Regions from separate parts of the Homo sapiens genome. Here regions 1 and 3 are each reported to be linked to region 2. Evidence: microRNA targets listed by miRTarBase, many of them from high-throughput screens and not tested one by one. Region 2 holds a microRNA gene; each other region holds the end of a gene's coding sequence.
Evidence for each region. Region 2 holds the annotated microRNA hsa-miR-7850-5p (GUUUGGACAUAGUGUGGCUGG, at 2,753-2,773, shown strand). A microRNA usually pairs through its seed, bases 2 to 8, with sites in the 3' UTR of a target mRNA and lowers its output. Matches are read on the target gene's strand: a 7mer-m8 pairs with bases 2 to 8, a 7mer-A1 pairs with bases 2 to 7 and ends in A, and an 8mer does both.

Region 1 (5,198 bases), not on the chromosome of region 2:
GAAAACAATCCAGCTGTCTAGCCAGGTGTGGTATCATGTGTCTGTAGTCCCAGCTACTCAGGAGGCTAAGGTGGGAGGATCACTTGAGCCCAAGAGTTCAACACCAGCCTGGGCAACATAGTGAAACCCCCATCTCAATTAAAAAAAAAAAATCCAACTGTCTTTGTTTGTGTTTGTGTTGCTATAAAGGAATACCTGAGGCTGAGTAACTTTAAAGAAAAGTTTATTTGGCTCATGGTTCTGCAGGCTGGTGCCAGCATCTGCTTCTGGTGAGAGCCTCAGGATGCTTCCACTCATAGCAGAAGACAAAAGGGAGCTGGTGTTTAGAGGTCCCATGGCAAGAGAGGAAGTAGGCAAGATGGGAGGGAGGCGCCAGACTCTTTAACAAGCAGCTCTCGCAAGAACTAATAAAGTGACAGCTCACCCCCCATTCCAAGGAGTATTAATCTACTCATCAGGGATCTGACCCCCATCAGCCAAACACCTTCCATTAAGCCCCATCTCCAACATTGGGGATCAAATTTCAACATGAGATTTGGAGGGATCAAACATCCAAACTATAGAAGCCTGGCATAAAGAATTCTTACAAATCAGTAAGGAGAGGGGACCAACAAACTAACATTATCTGAAACTGTGACAGAAACCCCATCTTGTACAAGGATCAAAAGAAACTCTTTTTCAGCTATTTAAAAGAGGGGTAGTCCTATGTAGTAGTCATCAATGGCCACTAATATCCCAAAAAAGAAAGACAATCAGACATAATGTGCTTCCTGATAGAAGTACCTACTACCTAAGAATTATTCTTGCCATAAAACTCAAACCTGCCAGCCTGGGCAAGATGACGAGACCCCGTCTCTACAAAAAATACAAAAATTAGCAAGGTGTGGTGCACACGCCTGTAGTCCCAGCCGCTTGGGAGACTGAGGCAGGAGGATCGCTTGAGTCCAGTTCAAGTCTGCAGTTAGCCATAATCAAACCACTGCACTCCAGCCTGGGCAAAAGAATGAGACCCTATCTCAAAAAAAAAAAAAAAAAAAAAAAAAAAAAGGGAAAAAAAACCTCAAACCTGAATGTAGTCACGCCTCTAGATCTAACCACCCCTTACAGGAAGAGAGGAATATATTTAAAATCACCACAGCAGTGCTGTCATAAAATCCAGATTCTGGGAAACTTAACAGGACAAACAGTCTGGTTGTTTCAACAAATATATTACAAGGGGGCGGCAAAAGAAGCAGAGGGAAACCTACCAATTGAAAGATTTAAGAGACACATCACTGTTGCAAGATATGAAACTCATTTGAATCCTGGTTATTAAGAAATTATTAGGCTGGGTGCAGTGGCTCATGCCTGTAATCCCAGCACTTTGGGAGGCCAAGGCAAGCGGATCATTTGAGGCCAAGAGTTTGAGACCAGCCTAGCCAACTGGTGAAACCCCGCCTCTACTAAAAATACAAAAATTAGCCAGGCATGGTGGTACGCACCTATAGTCCCAGCTACTCAAGAGGCTGAGGTAGGAGAATCACTTGAACCCAGGAGGGCAGAGGTTGCAGCAAGCTGAGATCACGCCACTACACTTCCAGCCTGGGTGATAGAGTGAGACCCTGTCTCGAAAAAAAAAATTCTATGAAGTCTAAGCTGGACAAGTCCTAAAGAATTATTTGTTCTAAAATCTTCATTTTATAGAGCATAAAACAGACCCATAAAGGACTATTTGTCCAGCATCTTTAGGGGCAAGTCAGGCCTGGAACCCAGATGTCTTGACTCTTTGTAGCCTCTCTCTTTGTATGAGGAAGTTATTCTCTTAAGTAACAACCTTTTTTTCCTATATCCTTAATTAGGACATTCAACCAATTTTGTGGTAACCGTCCTGTTACCCTCCAAGCGGTCCAAAGACTACTGGATTGCCAAGGGATCAGCTTTGCTCTGCCAGCTGAGCGAATGAAAAGGTGCCACCTCAGCCCTGAAAAAGAACCAGGCCAGAGATCTTTCCTAATGGGAGCAAAAGGTTTGAATAATTTATATGTGAGCAAAACGGTGTTAATTCTGATTTGACTTAAACGTATTGTGACTTTTATTTCTCTTATGACCTTAAAATAAAGTGTTTGAGTTCTTTCTGTTGGCAATCCAAGCTCTGCTGTAGAAGCAGTGGGTTCAACAACCCACCTGTTAAGCCTGCTCCCCCACCCTAAGTGAGAGGCAGCTTCCCATCAGTTACTTTCTGGGACCCCCAGGAAGAGTAAGGACTCAGCACTCGCTTCCCCTCACAGGCTCCTTTCCTCTTCACCCTGATATGAAAGGCCCCAGGTGCTTCCATTTCTAGACAAGATGAAGGCTCTCAGAGTCCAGTGCATGGGAGGTTGATGCAGTGAGCACAACTGGTAGAGCAAATGAGCAGGATAAGAAGAAGTTGGCCTATGATGTCAGTTCCCTGTTCTGTGGGGCTTCATCACAATCCTTGGAAGAGCCTGTGCTTTCACAAAAGGGCAGGCCAATCCTGCCCAAGTACGGAGGATTTTCCCCTTCCACTTTAGGATGAATCTGTGTGAAAACTAACCAAGTCCCAGCCAGGTGCATTTGAGCCTCTGCCACCTCAAAAGCAGAGGTTGGTGGGTCAGTTCTCAAATGGAGCAGCCACTGTGACAAACCATCTTGTGTCAGTCCTGCCAATAATGGTCTGCCTGCTTCCTCGGCCATAATGTGACCCAAGAAACAAGGAAATCACCCAGCTAGGATTGAGCCCTTGGTAGGAGCCATACCACCCTCTTACAAAGAATTGGAGGAACAGAGTCAGCCACAGTGATCCTACCCTCCCAGTTTATCTCTGCCTCCCCACTTCATCCCCATACCTATCGAAGTTAAGAGCAGACTCAAGTCGCAGAGAAGCAGGGAACACCACTTTTACCAGAAATCAGTGCACAAATCAGAAACTACTCTTGGTGTTTCAAGCAGAAATAGGTACTAACATGGGCACAGGAATGGCTGCCACTGCAGAAGTCAAAGAGTTGATATCAGGCATCACAGCATCTGTACTCCAAGGTGGGAACCCTGAAGGAAAAATTATGCCAACCTCACAGCTACTTCACGCTGAAGCAGGGGAATAGAGGGGGCTGCAGAGACTGGCTACTGCACAAACTTGTGTCTGCTGAAGCCTGCACATAACCACGCCCCCTGCTCAAGAAAAATTCCCTCTGCCCACTTTTGTTTTCCAAATATCCCATGAGTGTATCTCATTAGGAGAATCGAACATAGCAGCGAGGGGATTTGGGAGTTTTTGCCCGCCTACGCCTGCAATACAGGTGGTGCAGAATGGAACCAAAGTGGTGGACATGGGTCCTGAGTGCCATCACACCGTTTTAGTAAGGCCACTGAGATCTTCTGGGCCCTAGAAATAACTGAACATGAACCCACAAAAGCCTCAGAAAAGGAAGGGAAGCCAGAGCTACAAACCCAGGCAATCAGCCTTACCCTAAGCCAGATTAGGGGACAAATACAACTACTTCTTATTGACCCCACCCAAGTCCTGGACAGACCTTCTACCCAGGGTTTTTATGGGCTATTCAGAGGCCCAGGACCATAAAGGACACTTGCCACAGGTGGGAGACCCTGATCTGGAACCATGGTGGTTAGGGGAGGGAGATCACCTGGGCAGGGTTAAAAGCTCCCATTTCAGATTCAACTGGGGAAGTTCTACTCTTACACATTTTATAGAGTCCCAATAAGATTTGTATTTAGAAAAGACATTGACAATAAACATGTAAATAATAAATAACAAAATGGGGATTGGGGGTAGTTTGAAAACCACTTTCTTGCACAGCACCTCTGACAAAGCCTACCCACGCCCCCCAACCCCCCCACCCAGCCTCCAGCATGTCAGTGAGACACACACATTATACAAAATAAAAGCATCTCTCAGGACACAGGGAGCACCCTATTCACCAGAGCTTGAATAGAGAGGTGCAGACCACAAGTTCCGTGGCCCACTGACTCCCCTGCATCCAGAACCAAGAGTGACACAAAGAAAGAGAGTGGAAAGAAGAAAGGGTCAGGATACAAAGCCAGGGCCTGAAGGGATCAGAGCTGCAGCTGAGAAGTGCAGGGCCTAGGGGGAGGCAGTGGAAGGATTCAGAGGGTGTGAGAGAAGAAGTTGTCTGCCTGATATATATATATATCATGAATAAAAATCTATACAAAAAAAGGTATTTATTTTCATACAACTCATTTATAATTTATTTTCACACAACTCACTATGTTACAAAACTGTACACCTGCCCCCAAAGTTGGATAACCCAAAGTCACATTCCTTGGAAAGAGAAGAATCAACACTGGGCCGCTTTTTCAAGAGCAGTCTCTTCTGGATTGGGCCCAACAAGGCTAGACCAGAATGTGGAGTACAGGAATGGCCATTCTTCAAGTCCGAGGGGTCAGGTTCTTAGCCTGGTGCTTCCAGTCGTTACAGGAGGGGTGTCTCTGTTTGGAAAGCCAGCACCAGCACCCAGAACACAGGAGTCCAGAGAGACAGGCAGGCACTGCTGGCCACCATCTGGCTGTGGTGGGAATGCCCACGGCGAGGGAGCCGCAGTTCAGTGGAGATGTGCCTGTCCAGGACAGGGACCTGGAGTTGCGGGACTATGTCACTAGGAGGCAAAGAGAAAGACAGAGTCTGAAGTCACAGCAGAAACCACTGCACACGCCAAGGCCCCCAAATGCCCACACAGCTTCTCTTCATCTCCCCTCCTTATAGACAGGAATGGGTATTAGTATATTAATAGGCTTCCTATATCTCTGGCCCTCTTTCATGTCTTTGGCCACTGCTACCAGAAAACCAAATGGCAGAGGATATTAAGACCAGCAGACTGGCTAACTGTCCCTGGCTATTTGGCTCTTTATTCAAAGATTAGTGAAAGTCTTCGTATAAGGCCGAATTCAAAGTTTGCTAACATTAGTCTCTGGGCAATCTTAGGCAGGGACCCTCCTCACTGGCCACCACAGAGGCAGAGCCAGACCATGCAGATTCCTCCCTGGGTCTCTGCCTCTCTCATCTGCCCAAGTCCAGGCCTGATGTGCACAGCATATAGGCATACCAGGTCAAGACAGTTCAAGCTGAGGGGCCCATGACCTCAGGCTTACCCAGATCTTTCAACTCAGCTGAGGTATAAAGTGCCCAACCCCGTAGTCACCAATGGCCTTGTTTGAAAAAG
Region 2 (5,225 bases):
GGCCCAGGTGACAGGCACAGTTAATGTGATGATCACAACACAGTTGCCATGTGACCCTGGGCACGTCAGCCCCTCTCAGCTACTGTTTTCTCCTATGTGAAGTGGAGATCATTATCTCAATCTCAACATGGCAAACAACACGGCAAGTGTATGAGTCAGCTACTGCTGAGTAACAACAGCGGCAACAAAGACACCATTTGCCATCTCACAACTTCTGTGTGTCAAGAGTCTGGCTTAACTGGGTCCCCCGCTCAGAGTCTTATAAGCCTAAAATCAAGGTATGGGCTGGGCCGAGTTGTCATCTGGAATTTGGGGTCCTCTTCTGAGCTAGTTTGGTTATCGGCAGAATTCATTTCCTTGCAGCTCTAGGAATGAGGTCCCTGTTTACCTACTGGCTGTTGGATGTGAGTGCTCTGAGCCCCTAGAGGCTACTCTCAGGTGTCTGCCACATGGACCCTCCACAGGCAGCTCACGACATAGCTGTTTGCTTTCTTTAAGGCAAGAAACCCCTTCCCTTTCTCTCTTTCTTTCAACTGTGGTGTGTGTGTGTGTGTGTATATATATATATAACATAAGACGGATCATCTTAACCACGTTTATGTGTACGGTTCAGTGATGTTAAGTATACTCACACTGCTGTGCAATGGCTCTCCAGAACCTTCCATCTTGTAAAACTGAGACACTGTATCCACTGAACAACAGCTCCCCTCTTCCCTCCCCCAGCCCCTAGCACCCACCATTCTCCCTTCTGTCTCTCTGAATTTGACACCTCGGGATGTGCTTCTGGTCTCTTTTATGGGCTCACCTGATGAGGTCAGGCCCACCCAGGATGTCTCCTTTTTGATGAGCTCAGGTCAACTGACTAGGAATCTTCGTCGCATCTGCAAAATCCCTTTACCGAACACACGACCTAACTGCATTAACCTAACCACTGGAGTGACACCCCATCGTATTCGCAGGTCCAGCCCATCCTCAAGTGCAGGGGATTAGATAAGATGTGGGCACCAGGCGGTGGGGGTCTTGGGCGCCATCTTGGAATTCTGCCTAGGACTGTAGCTGTAAAAGACATGGTGGCCATTGCTGCTGTAGGTGCCATTAGTAGGAAACACACACAAAGTGGCCCCCAAGGAGCACGTACTATGCATCAGGCTCTGTGCAAGGCACAGAGAAAACAGCAAAGAACTTTGGGGAAAGTTGAAGACTTGAGGTGAACAACTGGATATCTTAGTAGGTCTCTCTGAAGGTTGAGCAAATGGATAGGGGATATTGGGAGATGGGTTATGTCCCTTGGAAAGAACTCCAAATGTCCCTTTCAATAACTTTCCACTCTACCAGTCATCTCCTCCTTCCAGAAATTCTCAGGAGGCAGCGCTTGGTGGCTCTTCTGCAGATGCCAGGATGGTGACGGTGACAGCAGGCCACGCTCTTGTGTTTAGAATAGGAGGTCCCCAAGGACACAGAGTCACAGACGGGTCAGGTAAGTTGCCTGGGCGCCCACACGAATAGGAGGTGCTTCTGGATTTGAAACAAGTCTTCTAGTGCTAGGAGCCCCAGAACACACCTAGTGCCACCCCCTCCCCACGACAAAGCCCACCAGAAGGGCTGGCTGCCTAAAGAGGTAGTGGACAAGACCTCACAGACTCACAGACTAGTGGGAGAAGACAGAAGAGCGTAGCCCTGAACGCAGTGTGGGGGCACACGGTGATTGGAACCTGGCACCCACATCAACGGTCAAAGTCTAGATGGTTTTGTTTGGTTGTACTCCCGCCTCCCTCTGACCCCATGCCCACGAGTAAGAGGAGCTCCGTCCACATTTATGGACACTTAATGTTCCTGCACACCCATAAATAAGGTGAAGCCGAGTCTGCATGTGTGCGAAAGGGCACAGAGCTTTGCACATACATGGTGCCAGGGTCCATTTCCTGGTTTTGTACTATGGTTACGTAAGATGTCACCACTGGGGGAAACTGTGAAGATACATGTGATGTTTTTTGCTCTGTGTGATTTTTGCAACTTCCTCTGAATCTGTAATGATTTCAAAATAAAGGTTGTTTTTTTTTTTTAATAAGTGGAGACACATTTAGGTGTAACTGGGACACAGCCTGCCACCTACTTTCCAAATGCCTCCTTTCTCCCAATAACCCCCACCCTCTCCCCAAAGACCTGGCAGTACTCCTGCAAGAGGAAGGGATGGACGCCAGAAAAAGGGAGTGAAGGTCCTGCTGATTCGGTCCTGGCTGAGGCCGAACGCAGGCCCCCCCTTCCCTTTGCCACCAAGAGGAGTCTAAGATCTCCCTGGAGAACATATCTTGTAGAACCCCCTCCCCTTGAGTGTGGGCAGGGCCCGTGGACATGATGAGATATCACTCCCCTGATTAGGTTGCTTTTCAGGAAAGAAGGGATTTTGAAGAGGTAAATAAGGTCCTAAATCAGTTGACCTTGAGTTCACTGAAAGGGCGATTATCCTAGGTGGGCCTGGTCTAATCAGGTGACCCTTTAAAAGGGATTGGGCCTTTCCTGAAATGAGAGCCTGGAAGCATGAGGGGCCTATGGAGAAGGCCAAGTGGCCTGAGAGTGGCCTCAAAGAGCTGAGAGTTGCCCCCTCCTGACAGCTAACAACGCAACAGAAACAGTCTATCAACCACAAAGAACTGAATTCTGAATGAGCCTGGAATGAGCTTGGAAGGGGATCCGTCACCACACAAACCTTCGGATGAGAATGCAGCCCTGGCTCACATCTCCGAGGTCAGAAGTTTGGACATAGTGTGGCTGGGTCCTCTGTGCAGGGTCTTACCCAGCCACACTACATCCAAACTTCTGACCTATGGAACCATGAGATAATAAATGGGTGTCACTCTAAGCTACTGCATTCATGGTAGTTGTTACGCAGCCATAGCTAGCTAATACACTCTTTATGTGCTGCAGACTAGAGCATTCTGGGATTTTATGGTCAGCTTTCAAACTTATTCATACACAAGGGTTTGGACATCATGTCCCTCCACAATCAGCCAAGCAACTCAGCAGTTTCCTCCTGAGTATGTCTGAGTATATCATCAAAAAGGTCTAATGACTATGACATTATCTGATTGTCTCAACAGCACTGTGTGGGGCTGAGGAGGCATAGCAGGCATGAAGACCAGAGGAAGAATGGTGCATTTAGTATTAGACAGCTTGACATGCATTAACCCCTTGAGAGGCAGGCACTGCCTATTCTCCCCCCTTTCACAGACGAGGGCATTGAGGTTCAGAAAAGCACAGAGATGGCCCAGGGTCACAGAGCCAGTAGGTGGCAGAGTTGGGAGCCCAAGCCCTAAACTGCTGGTTATGTCACCTCATGAAGCCACTTAACCTCGCTAGGTCTCAGCATCCTTATCTGTCCAGTGACGATCATTCTTTCCTCACGAGTGGTTATGAGATGAAATCAGATAACTCAAGGCCTCTAGGCTGAGGGTCAGCAAACCTTTTCTGCAAAAGGCCACTGAGCTCTGTCCTTGTAGTATGAAAGCAGTCACTGATGACAGGTAAATGAATGTCTGTGGCCGTGTGCCAATAAAACTTTATTCATAAAAACAGGAAGTGGAACAGAGAACTTGGCCCAGGGACCTGCAGTATGTCTGTGGCTGTGTGCCAATAAAACTTTATTTATACAAACAGGGAGTGGAGGGGGGAACTTGGCCCAGGGAGCTGCAGTTTGTCTGTGGCTGTGTGCCAATAAAACTTCATTTATAAAAACAGGAAGTGGAGGGCCAGACTGGGCCTGGGGTGGGGGCACAGCATGTCTGTGGCTGTATGCCAATAAAACTTTATTTATAAAAACAGGAACTAGATGGGGGACTTGGCCTGGGGGCCACAGTTTTCGACCCCGGCTTTAGCAGTTTTTTCCTTCTTTTGCTAACTTCTAAAATGAAGCCGACTGACCCTAGAAGTGCCATTTCTGAAAGAGGAAGAGAGAAAAGGGGTGAAAGGACGTTGAACCAGCCAAGGCAGACTACAGCATTTTCAGGGCGTCTCCCCAAGATCTCCAATAAGGACAACTAGCATCGACTAGGCTAATCCCGTGACGGCCTGTTCTGCGGGGACATCATCACCCTGGTGCTGCCCTCTCCCCCATTCTCTAGAGAAAGGAGCCCCAAAAGAACAGATAAACTCTGCCTCCTAGAAAGGTAAGACTCCTGGCCTGGCGCTGTGTGGGATCATGCCTGTAATCCCAGCACTTTGGGAGGCAGAGGCAGGTGGATCACTTGAGGTCAGGAGTTCGAGACCAGCCTGACCAACATGGTGAAACCCGTCTCTACTAAAAATACAAAAATTAGCCAGGCGTGGTGTCAGGCACCTGTAATCCCAGCTACTTGGGAGGCTGAGGCAGGAGAATTGCTTGAACCCGGGAGGTGGAGGTTGCAGTGAGCCGAGATTATGCTATTGCATTCTAGCCTGGGAGACAAGAGTGAAACTCCATCTCAAAAAAAAAAAAAACAAAAAAACCCAACCTGCTATAAACAAAACTCACACACACACACACACACACACACACACACACACACGCACACAGAAAACAGACTGGGAATTGTAAAAACAGCTGACGAACAGAGACTTTCTACTCTACAGGGAAGTCTCTCACCGTCAGCACTGTGGACATCGGGACTGGATCCATCTCTGGGGTGAGGCTGCCCTGGCACTGCAGGGTGCTGAGCAGAGTCCCTGGCCTCCACCCACTCCCTGCCAGGAGCACCCCTTAGTTACACTGAGCTATGATCGCACCACTGCACTCGCACCTGGGCAACAGAGTGAGACTCTGACTCTAAAATAATAATAATAACAAGAATATAAGAATAATAATTCAGATCCATGTCCGATAAAAATAATAAATAAGTAAAGCTGAGGCTCTAACATGAAGTCATTACGAGGCTCATCCAGCCACAGTGGGCTCTGCACTGGGGCACCCGCCTGGGCCTCTGCCTGGCCCATGTCTGCTCAGGAGCCCTCAGCCCCTTGAACCCTGCTGGTGGGACAGGGGGCCCCTCTACCAGGCCCCTAACTTCTCAACAGACCCCACCTTGGGCCTCCCCAGGCTGCACCTTAACCATCTATGACACGCATCCCCAGGCGGCACCGGGAGTGTCTGCGCAGAGATCCGAGGGTGTTAGCCTGGCAGGGGCCCTGCAGGTGGGTGCTGGTTCACTAAAACGATGAAGCGGATGGGAGGAAAATTAGCATCCAACGGGCCT
Region 3 (5,225 bases), not on the chromosome of region 2:
AAAAAGAGGACCACCACCAAGAAGTGGGGGTCCTTCTCCTAAGAGATCTGCACCTTCAGGACTAGTTCGCAGCAGCAGTGGAATGGGAGGAAGAGCTCCTCTATCACGTGGAAGAGATAGTTATGGAGGTCCACCTCGAAGGGAACCGCTCCCCTCTCGTAGAGATGTTTATTTGTCCCCAAGAGATGATGGGTATTCTACTAAAGACAGCTATTCAAGCAGAGATTACCCAAGTTCTCGTGATACAAGAGATTATGCACCACCACCACGAGATTATACTTACCGTGATTATGGTCATTCCAGTTCACGTGATGACTATCCATCAAGAGGCTATGGCGATAGAGATGGATATGGTCGTGATCGTGACTATTCAGATCATCCAAGTGGAGGTTCCTACAGAGATTCATATGAGAGTTATGGTAACTCACGTAGTGCTCCACTTACACGAGGGCCCCCGCCATCTTATGGTGGAAGCAGTCGCTATGATGATTATAGCAGCTCACGTGATGGATATGGTGGAAGTCGAGACAGTTACTCAAGCAGCCGAAGTGATCTCTACTCAAGTTGTGACAGGGTTGGCAGACAAGAAAGAGGGCTTCCCCCTTCTGTAGAAAGGGGGTACCCTTCTTCACGTGATTCCTACAGCAGTTCAAGCCGCGGAGCACCAAGAGGTGCTGGCCCTGGAGGAAGCCGATCTGATAGAGGGGGAGGCAGAAGCAGATACTAGAAACAAACAAAACTTTGGACCAAAATCCCAGTTCAAAGAAACAAAAAAAAGAGTGGAAACTATTCTATCATAACTACCCAAGGACTACTAAAAGGAAAAATTGTGTTACCTTTTTTAAATTCCCTGTTAAGTCCCTTCCGTAATTTTTATGTTCTTGTGAGGAAAAAAGTAAAACATGTTTAATTTTATTTGACTTTATGACATTGCTTTTCAACAAGCAAATGTTAAATGTGTTAAGCCTTGTAGTACTAGTGTTGTAACTTTCCAAGTAAAGGTGTCCCTAAAGACCACTTCCTATCTGGTTTTTCCCAGTAAATGAGGCAAGCAATTCTAAGATCTTCCACAAAACATCTAGCCAACTAAAATGGAGAGATGAATCATTCTGCCTATACAAACAAGCTAGCTATTAGAGGGTGGTTGGAGTATGCTACTCATAAGATTTCAGGGTGTTTTCTAACTGAAATCTCACTGTTCTCAGTATGCAAAACCTGAAATCAGATGCCTATGTAAGGAAAGTGCTATTCACCCAGTAAACCCAAAAAAAGCAAATGGATAATGCTGGCCATTTTGCCTTTCTGACATTTCCTTGGGAATCTGCAAGAACCTCCCCTTTCCCCTCCCACAATAAGACCATTTAAGTGTGTGCTAAACAACTACGGAATACTAAATAAAAAGTTTGGCCAAAACCAACCATGAAGCTGCAAAGGTGCTTGCTCTTACTCTTTCAAATTTTTGCAACTCTAATGTCTCACTTTTAAAGGAACAGCTTGATTGCAAAGGAGAAAATAGATAAGCAATGAATTTATCTCCAACTTCCTAAAGGCTTATGACTTCTAAAAAGTGAATCTATCAGCATTCCACATCAGATTTAAAGCATCAAATGCCTGTGAAACAGCAAAGATGGTTGAAGATTGTGCTCATTATGTTTGTGGAGTGCTGATTGATTCACAGTAGATAACGCTGGCAGTAAGAGAAATCAAATGCTAAGAGTTGTTGAAGCAGAAGGCGGCTGATTGTTGGTAAGTCAGTGCAGTTGCATAAGCAGTGCTGTCAGAATTGGTTTGGTGCAGGCAATAGATTTTGCCTTCAAGGGTTCCTGTGGATCTCAGGAAGGCATCAGTGTTGATTAACACTCATAACTAGGGAGTGAGTGGTAGTTACTTAAGTAATTGACCAAATGGAAAAGGGGAAGTAATTAAGGAAATTGGTAAGTGGAGGTAGTCAGGAGGTTCTCGTGGTCCTTTACACAGATTTTACAGCTTTGGGTTTCATTTTGTTTAGCTAAAGTCATGGGGACAACTCTTCAATTTAGAACTTAAGATGAATTATAAAAATGATGGATATAAGTGGTAGCTCTATCTGGTGAAGTGTCTTGTCAGTAAGTGAAACATTTTTTTGTGGTGGCTTATCCACAAACAGTTTAGTTGTAGAATAAAACTTATGAGTGACATCTGGAAAGTAACAACCATGCTAAGATGGCAAACACACTGGAAACAATTGGGCCACTTGGCTTTCTTTTGCTGTATTGTTTTATAAGCCTGCTTTACCTCCCCGTCTTGGAAACAAGTTTTAGTTTATTGCTTTGGAGACTAGAGCCAATAGTGTAATGTTCTCAAAGGAAACAGACTTGAGTTGTTGGATTAGAGGAACTAACTCAACTTCTAATTTTTTTTGTTGTAATTATGGCACTGTCATGTTTTAACATTTGCAACTAGGGATAGTAAGTACAACATTTTTAACTCTCATTTGGCAGACTACTACTAATCACAGACCACAAGGGTAATGACCAAATTTATGTGGTTGTTACACTTCCATAGTTGTCTTAGCCGAATCCTTCCATATTCTTATGATTACTTGGGTTAAAGCTTCTGTGAGGACCTTTTGGCTCTTAAGATATCCTAAATATTTAAAATATTTAGATATCCTAAATATAGGATATAGAGTTTGTACCAAATATGAATGAATATTGTTCAAAGCAAGGAGTATGTTAAAATGACCAGACACCTGTTTGATAAATAGTTTACTGAACTAGCAGACGTGTGGAAAAAGAATCAGATCTTGATTCTTCTGGGTTTATACTGGTTGTAAAACAGAATGATATTAGAAAATGTTTTCCTTGTTTAAGTGGTAGTTGAACATAGAACTTGGGTATTATAGATCACTTTTCACTTTTTGGAATGTTTTGTATTGAAACTTAATACAACTTTAACATGGCAAAAAAAAAAAAAATCCAAAATCTATGAGATAATTTTGTTAAAGTTGGCTTGCTTGGGCGGGTGCTTGGTCCAGAGGGAGAAAAGAAGGCATGATTTCAGAATACTCTGGCAGCTTTTTAAATTCAGCTTTATCAAGTTACAGTAAACTGTATCTGTTTAGAATTACAACTCAATGGTTATTTTGACAGATGTATATGCCATGAAGCCACTGTCACCATCAACATGCAGAACACTTCCATCGCCCCCAAAAGATTCCTCAAGTTCCTTTGCAGTCCATCCCTCACGCTGCTGATTTGTCTTTGTCACCATATATTAGTTTGCTTTGTGGTGGTGTTTAGTATTTTATATAAATGGGATTGTGTAGCATGTACTTTTTTGTTTATGGTTTCTTTCACACACAATGACTTTGAAATTCACCAGGTTGCAGTGTATCAGTAGCTTATTCCTTTTATTGCTGAGTAGTGTCCCATTATGTGAATATGCCATTATTTGTTTTTCTACTCACCTGTTGATGGACCTTGGGATTGTTTCCAGTTTGGGGCTACTGTGAATAAAACTGTTAGGAACATTTGTGTACAAGCCACTGTGTAGACATAGGTTTTCCTTTCTCTTGGGTAAATACCTACCAGTAAAATGGTTGGGTTGCATGGCAGATTTATGTTTAATAAAGTAACTGCCAAACTGTTTGTTTTCCAAAGGGGCTATACCCTTTTATATTCCCACCAGGGTTGTATAGAGTTCCAACTGCCAACACTCAGTTTTCAGCCATTCTGATGGGAATCTAGTGGTATCTCATTGTGGTTTTATTTTCATTTCCCCGGGTGACTAATGCTGGTAAGCATCTTTTAAGGTACTTTTTGGCCAGTTGTATATTTTCTGTGAAGTGGCTGTCAAATCTTTTGCCCACTTTTAATTGGATTGTTTGTCTTATTGAGTTGTAAAAGTTCTTTATATATACTGTATTAAAGTCCTTTGTAAGACACATGTTCGTAAATACTTTTCTTTCATTATATGGCTCAGAATCTGGCAACTTTTTAAGAGATACTTGAGCCCACTGAATGATATATAGATCTTATAGTTTTTTTAAGTCAAGCCTTAATAATAATTAACATTTTTTGAGTGTTCATCTCTCAGTCCCTCTATGGCCATGAAGGTGGGAGATGTGACTCTGTTTAGTCTCAAGTAAAGAAATGCAAACTGAGATAATGGGTACAAATGGAGATGAAGCAAAGCCCTGTGATGTTCAAGTTCCTGGTTTCTGTTACCATTCAGTCTGGCTGGACCTCTGCCTTTCCCATGGTAACATGACCTTTCTAATGAATTCTCCCTTTTCATCTAAACTGTTTCAGATTGAGTTTCTCTCACATAACTAAGAGATCTGATTACTATAGCTTCGGAGCTTCTAAGGCATCTTATGCACTTGTCTCTTCCCCACTGTTCAATCTGAAGCATGTACTCTGCCCTTTAGCAAAAATCACAACTCCACCAGGTGTGGTGGCTCATGCCTGCAATCCCAGCACTTTGAGAGGCCAAGGCAAGAGGATTGTGTGAAGCCAGGAGTTCGAGTCCAGCATGGGCAAAGCAAGACCCTCTCTACAAATGAATGTTTGAAAAAAAAAAAAATTAAGGCCGGGCATGGAGGCTCACACCAATAATCCCAGCACTTTGAGAGGCCAAGACAGGAGGATCACTTGAACCCAGGAGTTTGAGACCAGCCTGGGCAACATAGCAATATTCTATCTCTACCAAAAAAAAAAAAAATTAAGAACAAAATTAGCCAGGTGTGGTGCCACATACCTGTAGTCCCAGCTACTCAGGAGGCTGGGGTGGGAGGATGACTTCAACTTGGGCAGGTGAGGTTGCAGTGAGCCATGATTGCACCACTGCACTCCAGCCTGAGCAACAGAGCAAGACTCTGTCTCAAAAAAATTAAAGTTAACCAGGCATACTGGCACACATATGTCATCCCAGCTACTTGGGAGGCTGAGGTGGAGATCACCTTAGCCAGGAGGTTGAGGCTGCAGTGAGCCATGATGGTGGCACTGCCACAGCCTGGGTGACAGAGCGAGACCCTGTCTCAAAAAAAAAAGACACCACAACTCCACCCGGAGAAGAAATAAAATCTCAAAGAAGCATGAGCAGCCAACACAATTTTATAGCAGGAAAGAAAAAGCAAAAAAGCTAGGAAAGAACATAACAGTTTCTTTTTAAGATCTGTGTTTAAACAAAGACACTTAGGAAGTGGTACAAGTGCTAAGGAATGAATTAATACTAAATGTCAT

Region 1: miRTarBase lists TRABD2A as a target of hsa-miR-7850-5p. The part of its 3' UTR that is shown has no 7-base or 8-base seed match.
Region 3: the mRNA of RBMXL1 is a reported target of hsa-miR-7850-5p. Seed matches in the 3' UTR shown: 7mer-A1 at 2,957-2,963.

What each region holds. Positions count from the first base shown.
Region 1 is chr2:84,817,467-84,822,664 of GRCh38, forward strand. It overlaps TRABD2A (TraB domain containing 2A), which reads right to left. Exons shown (of 7, transcript NM_001277053.2): 7 at 4,200-4,634. The coding sequence ends at 4,451. It overlaps DNAH6 (dynein axonemal heavy chain 6), which reads left to right. Exons shown (of 77, transcript NM_001370.2): 77 at 1,839-2,123. The coding sequence ends at 1,942. Among named protein-coding and RNA genes, the nearest start is that of TRABD2A, 61 kb to the right of the region's middle. RefSeq lists a silencer at 1-134.
Region 2 is chr19:2,627,971-2,633,195 of GRCh38, forward strand. MIR7850 (microRNA 7850) reads left to right here and starts at 2,745; the gene lies at 2,745-2,823. All of the region lies in intron 2 of GNG7 (G protein subunit gamma 7), which reads right to left. RefSeq lists an enhancer at 1-210.
Region 3 is chr1:88,978,156-88,983,380 of GRCh38, reverse strand. RBMXL1 (RBMX like 1) reads left to right here. Exons shown (of 3, transcript NM_001162536.3): 3 at 1-3,925. The coding sequence ends at 727. All of the region lies in intron 2 of KYAT3 (kynurenine aminotransferase 3), which reads left to right. Among named protein-coding and RNA genes, the nearest start is that of KYAT3, 12 kb to the left of the region's middle.